2 linked regions of the Homo sapiens genome follow. The protein of the gene in region 1 interacts with the protein of each later gene in a pairwise test. Each region holds a gene or a part of one and is shown on either strand. Other genes may lie near its edges.

Region 1 (5,225 bases):
TGGATGAGGTTAACCCCTTCTGGGCAAGATTCCAGGTCCTAGCCTTCCCTCCAGCACAGCCTCACAAGAGGCACGCCAAGGACAGACACCACCTGGCAGAGCCCAACAGCCCAAACCTCAGTCCTCTTTTACCAGAGCGAGACTCAAAAAGACCACAGGCCGTAAATGGTTAAGCCGAGTATATCACCGCCTTCCCCCAGGAAGGTCCCACCTGGGGGCCTGCTCTTGGTGTAGGGAGTCTCTCCCTACCCTGACAGCCTGGAAACTGAGGAAGTAAAGCCACAACTGCCAGGCCCTTAGGCAAGTCACTTACCCTGGACTTTGTTTCCCCAGCTTACAAACCAGGGAGGCAGGAGAGGCTAAGTGAGCTCCAAGGTCCTCCCCCACCACCTTTACAGTCACAAGCCAGCTGCCAGCGGGCCAGGCCCACTTCACTTCCTTCCCCCGACTCCACATCTCTCTGGCTCTGCCTTCCCAATGGCAGTCTGCGTCCACGGAAGGGGGAAGCAAAGGCCGAGAGCAGTCATTTTGGTTTTGTTTTATTTTGCATTTCATATATTATCCAGTTTCACATTCTCACAGGATCAGCAATGACAACAGCCGCCTCATCTCCCAAGTCTGAAATGGCCAGACGGTCACAGCTGCGGCTGACAGTAAAGCACTGATATGCTCAAAACAAAAAACATTGCACAGTGTTTCCTTCATTTCATTTTCTTAAACAAATGCCAGACACAAAGGCGTACTGCTGAAGAATGGAAACCCTTTTCTTCTTCATGCCTCAAACTAAACATTAAACTTATCTGACAGGGCGAACGAGGTCGCTTTAATAATTAATGGTACGCACATGAAAAATCCTTTATGATGCATAAATATTTTGTTACACAGGGTACAAAAATACTTCTCACGTTTTGGTTGGTTTCGAGGTTTGGAAAGAATGAGGAGCAGCGGCGGGCGGGGTGCGCTGTGGAGAGGTGAACAGAACGGGCAGAGAGGGCTTTCTTACGACTGTTGGCCCATCCGAGAAGGCAGGAGCGGAGGAGCCCCATGTGAAATGAAAAAGCAAACCCCATCTATCTGTTGGGTGGAGGTGGGAGCTGAGCCTGGAAGCGTGTGGGGCCACGGAACTTGGGCCTCCCTGAAGCGGGGTGGGTGCAGGGGCGGGGCGAGGAGAGAGGGGCAGGCAGGATGAACCACTGGGAGCCAGGACCTGTCGCTATGGTGACAGTGTGAGAACAAACTGTACACTCATATATACAAGTATAAGTGTCTTAATTCATGCCAGAAAACATGCAAAATTAAACACCTCACTTCCTCGAGGGGGAGCTACAGAAGCAAGTTTGGGCGGGAGGTCAGGCCTTGCCAGGTCCCAGTGAGGCCTCCGAGCTGGATCTGGGCGCCCCAGGGAGAAAGTCCCCAAATCCTCCTGGGAGGCATTGGAGAAAGGCTTGAGGGTGCAGAACAAGGTGAGGAAGAGGAGGGAGGGGAACAGGAAGCAGTCCACTGAGTCAGGCTTGGGATTCACAGTCTCTGGAGGGCAGCAGCTCTGTGCAGGCCGCCCGGGGGCAGTGGGAACTCGGGGCGCCTGTCCCGGCACCACCACAGATTACCAGAACCACCTCCCCGGTGACCAGACCTGGAGGGAGGGAGAGAGGCGGCCGTGAGCAGAGGCGTGGGACTAGAGCTAAAGCCAGGCCTGCTCTGGGCTCGGCTAAGCTCTTGAGACCCGGGGCAGAGGGAGGAACTACGGCCCTTCAGGGAGCCGGAGTCTAGGACACTTGTCCTGGGCCTCTGGGGCCAACACTTACTGAAAAACTAACAGAACTGACGGTACTTCCATCCTTGCTGGGTGGTGTCAGAGGAAGGGTACCAGCGCACCTGCAAGAGAAGCCAACGTCAGGAGCCAGCTGTGCATCCCTTCCCTCAACAGGAAGCCAGGTAACCATGGCCATCGGTGTCCCCGCTGGAGTCCTGGTTCTGTCACTGATTGGCTGGCACATTTTGGGCCAGTTACTCACCTTTAAGCATCAGTTTCTCTATCCGGCAAGTGGGAGTGCACTGCCTGATGTGCCTCCTCTGCAGGACACAGGTTCCAGCGAAGGAAAGTCACGCAGGCGTCTCATACCCCAATCAGCCCAATCCAAATGGGCCACTATACTGGTGGGAGCCCTGGCAGCTGGGGGCAGTGGTGCCAGCAACCCGCCCTTCCCCTTTACTGACACAGCACGGAATTCCTAATTCTGTGGAGGAGGAGGAAAAGAATGAGCCTCATACATTTTTGTTTGACTTCTTTGGGTCTCAGTGTTCTCATCTAGCTATAGGACAGAAATGACGAAGTCATATGTGGTTGTGAGGATCAGGTAAGACAGGATGTAAAGATACAGTAAGGCCGGGTGCAGTGGCACACACCTGTAATCCCAACACTTTGGGAAGCTGAGGTGGGAGGATCACATGGGCTCAGGAGTTCAAGACCAGCCTGGGCAACATAGGGAGATAATGTCTCTATTAAAACCAAACAAGGCCGGGCGCAGCGGCTCACGCCTGTAATCCCAGCACTTTCGGAGGCCGAGGTGGGCGGACCACCTGAGGTTCAGAGTTCGAGACCAGCCTGACCAATATGGAGAAACCCCATCTCTACTAAAAATACAAATTAGCCGGGCGTAGTGGTGCATGCCTGTAATCCCAGCTACTCGGGAGGCTGAGGCAAGGAGAATCGCTCGAACCCGGGAGGCGGAGGTTGCAGTGAGTTGAGATCGCGCCATTGCACTCCCGCCTGGGCAACAAGAACAAAACTCCGTCTCCAACAAAAACAAAAACAAAAAACAAAACAAAACCCAAAGTCCGTGTAGACCCCAAGGGGTAGGACTCTCCAACATCAGTCCTGATTCTTCTGAGAAGCCATGGATGAGACCCAGCTGAGGCTCCCGTTTTGACCTTCCCACCCCTGCTGTGCCATGCCCTCCATCACAAGCCTCTAAGTCCAGAGGTCTATAACGTCAGGTGGGCGGCAGCTATCTGAGATCATCCTCACCAGTGCCTGGAAGTTGCCTAAACCCTGGCACTTGCCAGAAGGCCCCACAGAGCAGTAGCCCCAAAGCTGGGTTCCCAGAGACTGGTCAAGAAAATGGCACGTTCCCTCCTCCCTGTGGGCCAGTCATCTGGAAGGCAAGTATGCTGACTGCCAAGACCGCAGGGAAGGCCGCCTGCCCCAGTTATGCACGGTGAAGCATGTCTGTCCCAGCCTGACCCAGGACAGGGAAAGGGGTGTGGCGGGGGGAGCGGGACAACACAGGACCTTGAGTTGCGGTTGGGGGATGAGCATCCAGGGAGGGGAGCTGGAGTCCCCTCAGGAAGGGAAGGGGCAGCACATGAGCGTGTGGCAGGAAAGGAGTAGAAGCTGGGCCTGCAGACAGCTCCCTTGAGGTTGGAGCAGGCAGACCCAGTTACCCACTTGGCTGCTGGGAACTCCTGCTTCCTGGGTAAGCCATGCCAGGCCGTCTGGGGGCTGATGGAAGCTTCCTAAGAACCCGTTCCTATCCCCGCCAAATTCTAGGTGCTGTTTTGTACACTGCAGAATTCCAGCCACCACATCCCAGGAGCTCAGCGGGAAGTTAGAAACCTGGCTGGACACTAGCACTTATTCCACAAGAGAGGGACACACGAGGAAACGAGCAATGCTGCTATCAGAGAAGCCGGCGGCTGGCACCAGCTCAGGGAGCCCCTTAGTGGGCCCTGACCACTGCCCTTCATGTAGCCTCCGGCAGCCCCACAGCAAGGAAATCCCGGACGGGCTGGGTGTCCCGCAGGGCCGGACAAGGGGAGAACATGGACGACAGAATGGAAGGAGCTCAGGAGGCCTGCAACCCAACCTCTTTCACCACTGGGAAGCTAAGGCCTTGAATGACTGCCTAAGGCCGCCCTCAGCATATCTGCTGGATCCTGCCCTACACTCTCGCTACAAGGTGCTGGGATTCCTGCTTCCCAAGCAGCGACTTTCCCTCCAGCCTGAGGGACTCCTTGGGGAGAAAGTGGAGGAAAGCTCCCATATTTGGGCTTGGGACAGCTGTGCCACTGAAGCAGACGGAATGCATTTAGAAGGGCTGCTTTTCCGCTTCCTCCGGGTGCCTGGCATAGGCCAGTGGCCTGGGTCCTCTAGAAGCCACACAATCCCTTCCTAGAGCTCTTCTTTCTGCTCCAGCTACAGGAGACCCCCAGGGGGCCAGGCCAGCAAGACAGGGCACCCGCAGTGTCCTTTCAGGGCCTCCAGTTGTGCCCAGGGGGGGGGGGGCTCCTGAGAGTACCCCCCACAGGCTATAGTGACCAGGTTCCGAGAGGGCTGCTTCAAAACAAAGAGCGGAGGATGCAAACTCAGCCGTCTCTCAGATCCTGGGACTGACCAGTTGAGAAGATACACCAGAAAGCAAGCAACGGGATGAACCTACATAAGAATAAATATAAGGCCAGGTGTGACAGCTCACGCCTGTAATCCCAGCACTCTAGGAGGCAGAGGTGGGCGGATCTCTTGAGCCCAGAAGTTTGAGACCAGCATGGCCACCATTACGAAACCCCGTCTCTGCAAAAAAATACAAAAATTAGCTGGGCGTGGTAGCACACACCTGTAATCCCAGCAATTTGGGAGGCTGAGGCAGGAGGATCGTGCTTGAGCCCAGGAGGCAGAGGTTGCAAAGAGCAAAGGTCATGCCACTGCACTCTAGCCTGGGCAACGGAGTGAGACTCTGTCTCAAAAAAATAAAAATAACTAAAAAAAGAGAAAGGAAAAAAAAAAGATATAAACAACCAAAGATATGGAAGCCTCACTTATCCGAAATTAAAACATTTAACCCAGACTGGTAAGTCTACACTTTCACCGTGTCATAGTTCTAGGAATTTATCATAAAGAAAACAAAACAATGGCTGGGCGCGGTGGCTCATGCCTGTAATCCCAGCACTTTGGGAGGCCGAGGCGGACGGATCACCTGAGGTCGAGAGTTCGAGACCAGCCTGACCAACACGGAGAAACCCCATCTCTACTAAAAATACAAAATCAGCTGGGCGTGGTGGTACATGCCTGTAATCCCAGCTACTAGGGAGGCTGAGGCAGAAGAATCACTTGAACCTGGGAGGCGGAGGTTGAGGTGAGCTAAGATCACACCATTGCACTCCAGCCTGGGCAACAAGAGTGAAACTCTGTCTCAAAAAAAAAAAAAAAGAAAGAAAGAAAACAAAAC
Region 2 (7,322 bases), on another chromosome or scaffold:
CTGCTGGGATTAGTTTCCCCTGTCTCAGTAAATTTTTTTTCCCAAACTAAGTGAACATTAGATTTAATTTGGCTGGCCCCAGAAGAAAAACATGCACAGATGGTAGTTTTACTGGTGTTGCAGTAAGTTTTCAAATTTGGAAGTTTGGCAGCTTTATGATCTTGAACCTTGCTGTCCATCTCTCACACAACTCCTCTCTTGGCCTCCAGAGTCCCTTTACTCTCCCAGCTTTCCTCCTGCCCCTGGCTGCTGTTTCCCAGCCTTTCCACATTGGCTTTCCCATGTAGTCCTTAGTGTGTCTGCTCCTCCTCTCTCTCCTCATCACAGTTCCCAGCCCCCACCTTCAACTGAACTCAACAAAATCTTCAACTTCATACAGTAGTCACATTGTTAGTAATAACACTGGCATTTTTATTTTGATAAAATAGACCGTTTAAATTTTTGAGATTCTACCTTATATTTTTTGAATTATATACTAAAGCAAATAAGTAGTGATGTAATGTCATTGGGGACCAAGATTTTTAGTGTAAATGAAAAAAGATAACAAATATAAACTCAAGTAAACACCCTGTAGTCTTTCACATGAATTGGAAATATCAGAATAAAGTCATGATTTTTCTCTTTCTAAAAAATATGTATTTCCCTAGTTAAGTCCCCTGAAAAGGTCTAAATATAATGACACCCCAGTAACACTGAGCAGCACTAGTATACAGACTGTGGTCTCTATAAGTGCCATTTCTGACTAAGAACTAGGGACTTTTGTGAAAACAGCTGATTCCAGGTCTGGGGCAAGAAATGTGCAAAATGTGTCCAGGATATTTTGTGCCAGGAAGCAAAGAGTCCTCCAAGACTACTGTGGCCAAGTCAAAGGAACTCAGGAGCCAGTCTGAAGGGCTGTCACTCACCAAAGGTGGGACATGTTGAGCAGCAAAAAGAACCACAGTGGTTTGAAGCACATCAAATATGCCTGAATGTGTAAGTTCATGTTGATACTCATATACCTCATTGAAATCACCTTTGAAGAGTACTAGGAACCCACTCATTATTTTGAAAAATTTTTTATATATAAAATAATCCAGCATGTTCTCTATTTTTCTTATATGTGAACAAGTAACCAACTTTTTTTTTTTTTTTTTTTTGAGACAGGGTCTTGTGCTGTCACCCAGGCTAGAGTGCAATGGTGAGATTTTGGCTCACTGCAACCTCCGCCTCCTGGGTTCAAGTGATTCTCGTGCTTCAGCCTCCTGAGTAGCTGGGATTACAGGTGCGCGCCACCATGCCAGGCTAATTTTTGTATTTTTATTAGAGGCGGGGTTTTGCCATGTTGGCCAGGCTGGTCTCAAACTTCTGACTTCAGGTAATCTGCCCGCCTCAGCCTCCCAAAGTGCTGGGATTATAGGTGTGAGCCACTGTGCCCAGCCTAAGTAACCAAATTTCTGATGAAGAGGTTATTTATGGAAGAATCACAACTAATAACTTCAGAGAAAATACTAGAATTCAAAAACCACTATTTGCTATTAATTAATCTAGTGATGGATACAGGTAATGATGATCAAGGGCTACTAAAACTATTAGGGGAAAGGTTGATTGGGCTTCTTAAAATAGGTAGACCAGGATGACACCACTGATCAATCCTGATGCCAAAGGAAGGCAACCAGACATCTTGTGCTTCTGATGGGATCCAATAGGATACAAGGGATATGATACCATACAATATTATCTATGAAGTGTGCTTTTACCAAATTAAACCTAAATCTCATCTAGCCTTAGCTCTCACTACAAGCATATGGGAAAGGGGCAGAAGGCAGTCAGAAACAAGTGAAACAAAAAGGATGTAATTAGTTAAATTCAAAATGTGTGACACCCTATAGGATAAATGATCCAGTTTCTTCAATAAAGAGAAGGCAAAAGGGGGAATGGAGAAAGAAAGAAGAAAGGGAGGGAGGGAAGAAGGGAGGAAGGAAGGAAAGAAAGAAAGATGGCAGGCAGGCAGGTATTCATTTGTACTGATTCATACTGCAGCTTCAAGAAACCAAGGCAGCCAATAAAATTAAATTTTCTTTTTTTTTTTTTTGACACGGAGTCTCGCACTGTCACTGGAGTGCAGTGGCACAATCTTGGCTCACTGCAACCTCCGCCTCCCGGGTTCAAGCGATTCTCCTGCCTCAGCCTCCCAAGTAGCTCGGATTACAGGCGCTCGCCACCACGCCCAGCTAATGTTTGTATTTTTAGTAGAGACGGGGTTTCACCACGTTAGCCAGGCTGGTCTTGAACTCCTGACCTCGTGATTCACCCGCCTTGGCCTCCCAAAGTGCTGGGATTACAGGTGTGAGCCACCTCGCCTGGCCTCTAAGTTTTTCTTGTTGGTAAACATCTGAGCAAGCAAAAATTTAAGTTTTGACAGGAAAAAAAAAAGACAATCAAATGCAATATTTGGACCTTGTTTTGATCCTGATTCTACTATCGTATAAAGACATTTTTGAGACAAGGAAAACTGAACACGGTCTGGGTGTTAGATGATACTAAGAAATTAATTTGATGGTATTCATAATGGCATAGTTAATGGTATTTTTTTTTTCTTGACACTGAGTTTCACTCTATCGCCCAGGCTGGAGTGCAGTGACGCGATCTCGGCTCACTGCAACCTCTGTCTCCCGGGTTCAAACAATTCTCCTGCCTCAGCCTCCCGAGTAGCTGGAACCACAGGCGCACGCCACCACGGCCGGCTAATTTTCGTATTTTTAGTAGAGACAGGGTTTCACCATGTTGGCCAGGCGGGTTTCAAACCCCTGACCTCAGGTGATCCGCCCACCTCGACCTCCCAGAGTGCTGGGATTACAGGTGTGAGCCACTGAGCCCAGCGTTAATGGTATTTTTTAAAAATAGTTCTTATCGGCCGGGCCGAGATCGCGCCACTGCACTCCAGCCTGGGCGACAGAGCGAGACTCCGTCTCAAAAAAAAAAAAATAGTTCTTATCTGTTAAGGAGACATAATGGCGCATTTATGACTGAGTTGATGTCTGGAATTTGCTTTAACATACTCCAGCAAAAAAATATAAAAATAAGAAAAGTATAAGGCCATGCGCAGTGGCTCATGCCTGTAATCCCAGCACTCTGGGAGGCCGAGGCGAGTGGATCACTTGAGATCAGAAGTTTGCTACCAGCCTGGCCAACATGGTGAAACCCCGCCTCTACTAAAAATACAAAAATTAGCCGGGTGTGGTAGTACACACCTGTAATCCCAGCTACTAGGGAAGCTGAGGCAGGAGAATCCCTTGAGTCCAGGAGGTGGAGGTTGCAGTGAGCCGAGGTCACACTACTGCAATCCAGCCTGGGCGACAGAGCGAGACTCCGTCTCAAAAAAAAAAAAAAAAAAAAGAAGAAGGTACTTTGTAACATTCTCCCCGCCCTTGAGAATGTACTTTATAAGCCTATCCCAAACCTGTAAGAACTAATGATAATCCCACCACCCTTTGCTGACTCCTTTTTCGGACTCAGCCCGCCTGCACCCAGGTGAAATAAACAGCCTTGTTGCTCACACAAAGCCTGCTTGGTGGTCTCTTCACACGGACGCGCGTGACAAAGAAGTATAGATCAAGTGAAATCCAGAAGTGTTGAATATTGGTAGCGTTTGAGATGTACTTAAGAGTGCGTTATACTATTCCCCTTAATGTGCATGTTTGAAAATACTCAGAATAAAACACTTGTGAGGGCTACGGGAAAAAAAAAAGGGTCAGCTGTGGCCCAAGAAAGGACAGGGACCAAGCCCACGGACGTGCTCCTCTGAGTTGCACTAGTCTCTGGGCCTTGGCTCCCACCCTGAACAGCTCTCATCTTTAAATGTCTTCAGCTGTCCTCCTCCAGGAAGCCGGGTCAGGCGCTTCCTCCCGGGCGTCTCCGGTCTTCCTGGAAACCACAGGTCGGGTGTCAACCTACTCCAGGATAGGGGCCCCGAGGGGCCAGCCAGGCCTCCCAGCCTTGCCCAACCCTGGGGTTGACACGGACTTTAGCGTCTTTTTAAACTTCCGGCGCGGGCTCTGCGGTGGCACAGGAGGGTCCTCCAAACTTTCCTGCGATCTCAAAGGTCCAGATTCCACATTGGGGATGGGCCCAACTGACTTTGCTTCGCTCTCATTAGCCGGTGGTCCTCCAGGAAAGCGGGGCCGCCTCTCCGCTGTGCTCTCATAGGCCCAGGTTCTTGCGTTCGTGTGTCCTTCTCTCACTCTGATTGGCCTATATTCCCCCTGAGGGTGTGGCCAAATCTCATTGGCTCTCGCGCCCGAATGTATGACGTCATGCGCCAGCGCCCGTCGCTTTTGCTGGACGTCATCCTCGGGAGCCCACCCGGACGAAGGGGGAGAGTAGACAGCAGAACCAGCGGCGGCGGCTAAGCAGAGACTGTAGTAGCGGCGACAGCGACGACGGCAGCGATGGCTGGGGCGGGGCCAGCCCCGGGACTCCCGGGTGCAGGAGGACCCGTGGTCCCGGGTCCTGGCGCTGGCATCCCGGGCAAAAGCGGCGAGGAACGCTTGAAGGAAATGGAGGCGGAGATGGCCCTGTAAGGCCCGCGACAGAGAGTGATAAAAGTCGTCCCAGAGCCAGAGCCACCGAATCTCGGAGCCTCCAGGCCTCGATAGGCCGGAGATACGGCTCTAACATGGGGAAGTGGGACCTTCGGGATTGTGGGGGCGGGGATAGGGGAGAGGTTGGCAGGGGTGAGGGTCCCCTCGCGATATACCCACAGTTCCAAAATTGGTACGAGGTCCTGAGCGCTGATGTCTGTTCTACTCCTCCAGGTTTGAGCAGGAAGTTCTGGGGGCTCCAGTACCTGGAATCCCAACTGCTGTGCCTGCGGTGCCCACTGTCCCCACGGTCCCCACAGTAGAAGCGATGCAGGTCCCAGCGGCTCCTGTGATCCGCCCAATTATCGCGACCAACACATACCAGCAGGTACGGCTGAGCTAAGGCATGTAAGTCAGGGAACACAATGCCTCGAACAGAGTAGGTGTTTGTGTACAGAGAGCTGTTGACGTTTTGGCTTGTTGACTAATTAGCATGACAAATATTTTATATGCCAGGCACTGAGAACACAGTAATGACTGAGAGAGACATTTCTGCCCTGTGGGAGCTTATATTCTAGAACATGTTGTCCAGTAGAGCTTTCTGCAATGACGAGACTGTTCTGATATATTTAAAATTTATATTTAATAGTTCGTTATTCTCATTAGTCACATTTCAAGTGCTCAGTAGCCAACTATATATGACTAGTAGAGAAAGAGAGAGAAATTATTAAGATGAAAATAGGCTGGGCGCTGGGCGTGGTGGCTCACACCTGTAATCCCAGCACTTTGGGAGACCAAGGCGGGCAGATCACGAGGTCAAGAGATCGAGTCCATCCTGGCCAACATGGTGAAACCCCATCTCTACTAAAATTACAAAAATTAGCTGGGTGTGGTGGCACGTGCCTGTAGTCCCAGCTACTTGGGAGGCTGAGGCAGGAGAATCGCTTGAACCCAGGAAGCGGAGGTTGCAGTGAGCTGAGATTGCGCCACTGCACTGGAGCCTGGTGACAGAGCGAGACTCCGTCTCAAAAAAAAAAAAAAAGCCCTGAGGCAGGTGCATACCTGTTGTGTTGTTGTGTTCAAGGAACAGCAAGGAGACCAGTGACAGTGGAGTGAGCAAAGAGGAAAGTGGGAGGAGATAAGGACAGAGAGGTGAGGCCAAATCTTGTAGAGCCTTATGGCCATTTTAAGAACCCTGGTGGCCAGGCACGGTTGCTCACGCCTGTAATCCCAGCACTTTGGGAAGCCAAGGCGGGTAGATCACAAGGTCAGGAGTTCAAGACCAACCTGGCCAACATGGTGCAACCCCGTCTCTATTAAAAATACAAAAATTAGGCGGGCGTGTCGGCGGGCGCCTATAATCCCAGCTACTCCGGAGGCTGAGGCAGGAATATCACTTGAACCCAGGAGGCGGAGGTTGCAGTGAGCCAAGCTCGTGCCACTGCACTCCAGCCTGGACAATAGAGCGAGACTCCGTCTCAAAAAAAAGACTGTAAGGGACAAGGGCAGAAGCCAGGAGATGGAGGAAGGGGCTAGTACAGTAATCTAGACAGGAGTTAATGGTGGCTTGGATGGAGGTTGTGCATGGGAGATGGGGAGGACAGGTTGGACACAGTTTCAGTGGGTGCTAAGTGCTGTGGGGAAGATGAAATAAGGTGGTGAGAGAAGTTGCTGCTCAGAGAGCCCTAGTGTGATCCAAAAAGCCTCCCCGAGAAGTGGCATTTTAGCTAAGACCTGAGATAGCCAGCCACATACAGAGCACAAAGCATGAAGCTCTTGGTCTCTTGGGGTGAGCTGGCCGCAGCAGATGGGAATGCTGAGTCAGGCCCCTCACCCTGACCTCTTCCTCGACAGGTCCAGCAGACTCTGGAGGCCCGAGCAGCTGCTGCAGCCACAGTAGTTCCTCCCATGGTGGGTGGCCCTCCTTTTGTAGGCCCTGGTAAGTAAAGAGTAGCAAGGTGAGGGGGTTGGGCAATCAGGCAGGGTGGTAAAAAGGTGTGCACAGGACTCTCCTCCCACCATCCTTGCCTCTCCCCTCCCAACAGTTGGCTTTGGCCCTGGTGATCGGAGTCACCTGGACAGCCCAGAGGCTCGAGAAGCCATGTTCCTGCGGCGGGCAGGTGAGTCTGGGGCCAGGGACCCCCACATTTAATCAGGCACTCTTGTTTACATGACTTCAGCCTCTTGCCTAAATCCTTGCTCTAAATTACCCTTTGCCTTTGATCCCAACTTGATGTTGTCATCCTAAAGCACGAACCTGATCATGTCCTTTCTGATGATGTCAATTTTGTTTTAACCTGATCATTGCAAACCAACCCTCCTGCTGTCAGTCCTAATTCCCAGTTACCACAGCACTTAACACCTCATAACAAGCTATATAATTTCTTATTTACTATGGCTATCATCTTTTGCATCCTCTAAAATAAAAGCTCCATGAGGGGCAGAAGTCTCAGTATCTGCCACATAGGAAGCATTATGTACTGTCTGTTGATGGGATGAACGGACTGTTGAGACAAGCGCCAGGCTTTTCCCCTGGCAGTCACAACCCTACATGACCTTGCTTCTTGCAGGGAGAGATCCCCAGCAGCCCGAACATTTCTGGGATGTGCCAGCAGTGCTTTTGTTAAGGTCCCTTCTCTCCCTGCTCACTGTCACCCAGCTGTAATCTTCCAGCCATCCTTCCCCCCCAGGCCATTTTCTACATTCCACCTTTTGTTCTTCAGGTAACCTTTACTCACACTGTCAATTTGTAGGACATTA

Evidence for each region. Proteins that work in one complex are often made in the same cells at the same time.
Region 2: the proteins of RBPMS2 (region 1) and RBM42 interact in binary tests that used the Homo sapiens proteins (3 or more experiments, as listed by UniProt).

Annotation. Positions count from the first base shown.
Region 1 is NC_000015.10:64,739,368-64,744,592, forward strand, and holds the end of RBPMS2 (RNA-binding protein with multiple splicing 2), read right to left. Parts: intron 1,876-5,225; coding exon 1,813-1,875; 3' UTR 1,806-1,812; intron 1,634-1,805; 3' UTR 524-1,633; downstream 1-523.
Region 2 is NC_000019.10:35,624,724-35,632,045, forward strand, and holds the start of RBM42 (RNA-binding protein 42), read left to right. Parts: upstream 1-4,312; 5' UTR 4,313-4,430; coding exon 4,431-4,558; intron 4,559-4,796; coding exon 4,797-4,950; intron 4,951-6,416; coding exon 6,417-6,501; intron 6,502-6,607; coding exon 6,608-6,682; intron 6,683-7,322. UniProt on the Homo sapiens protein: Binds (via the RRM domain) to the 3'-untranslated region (UTR) of CDKN1A mRNA.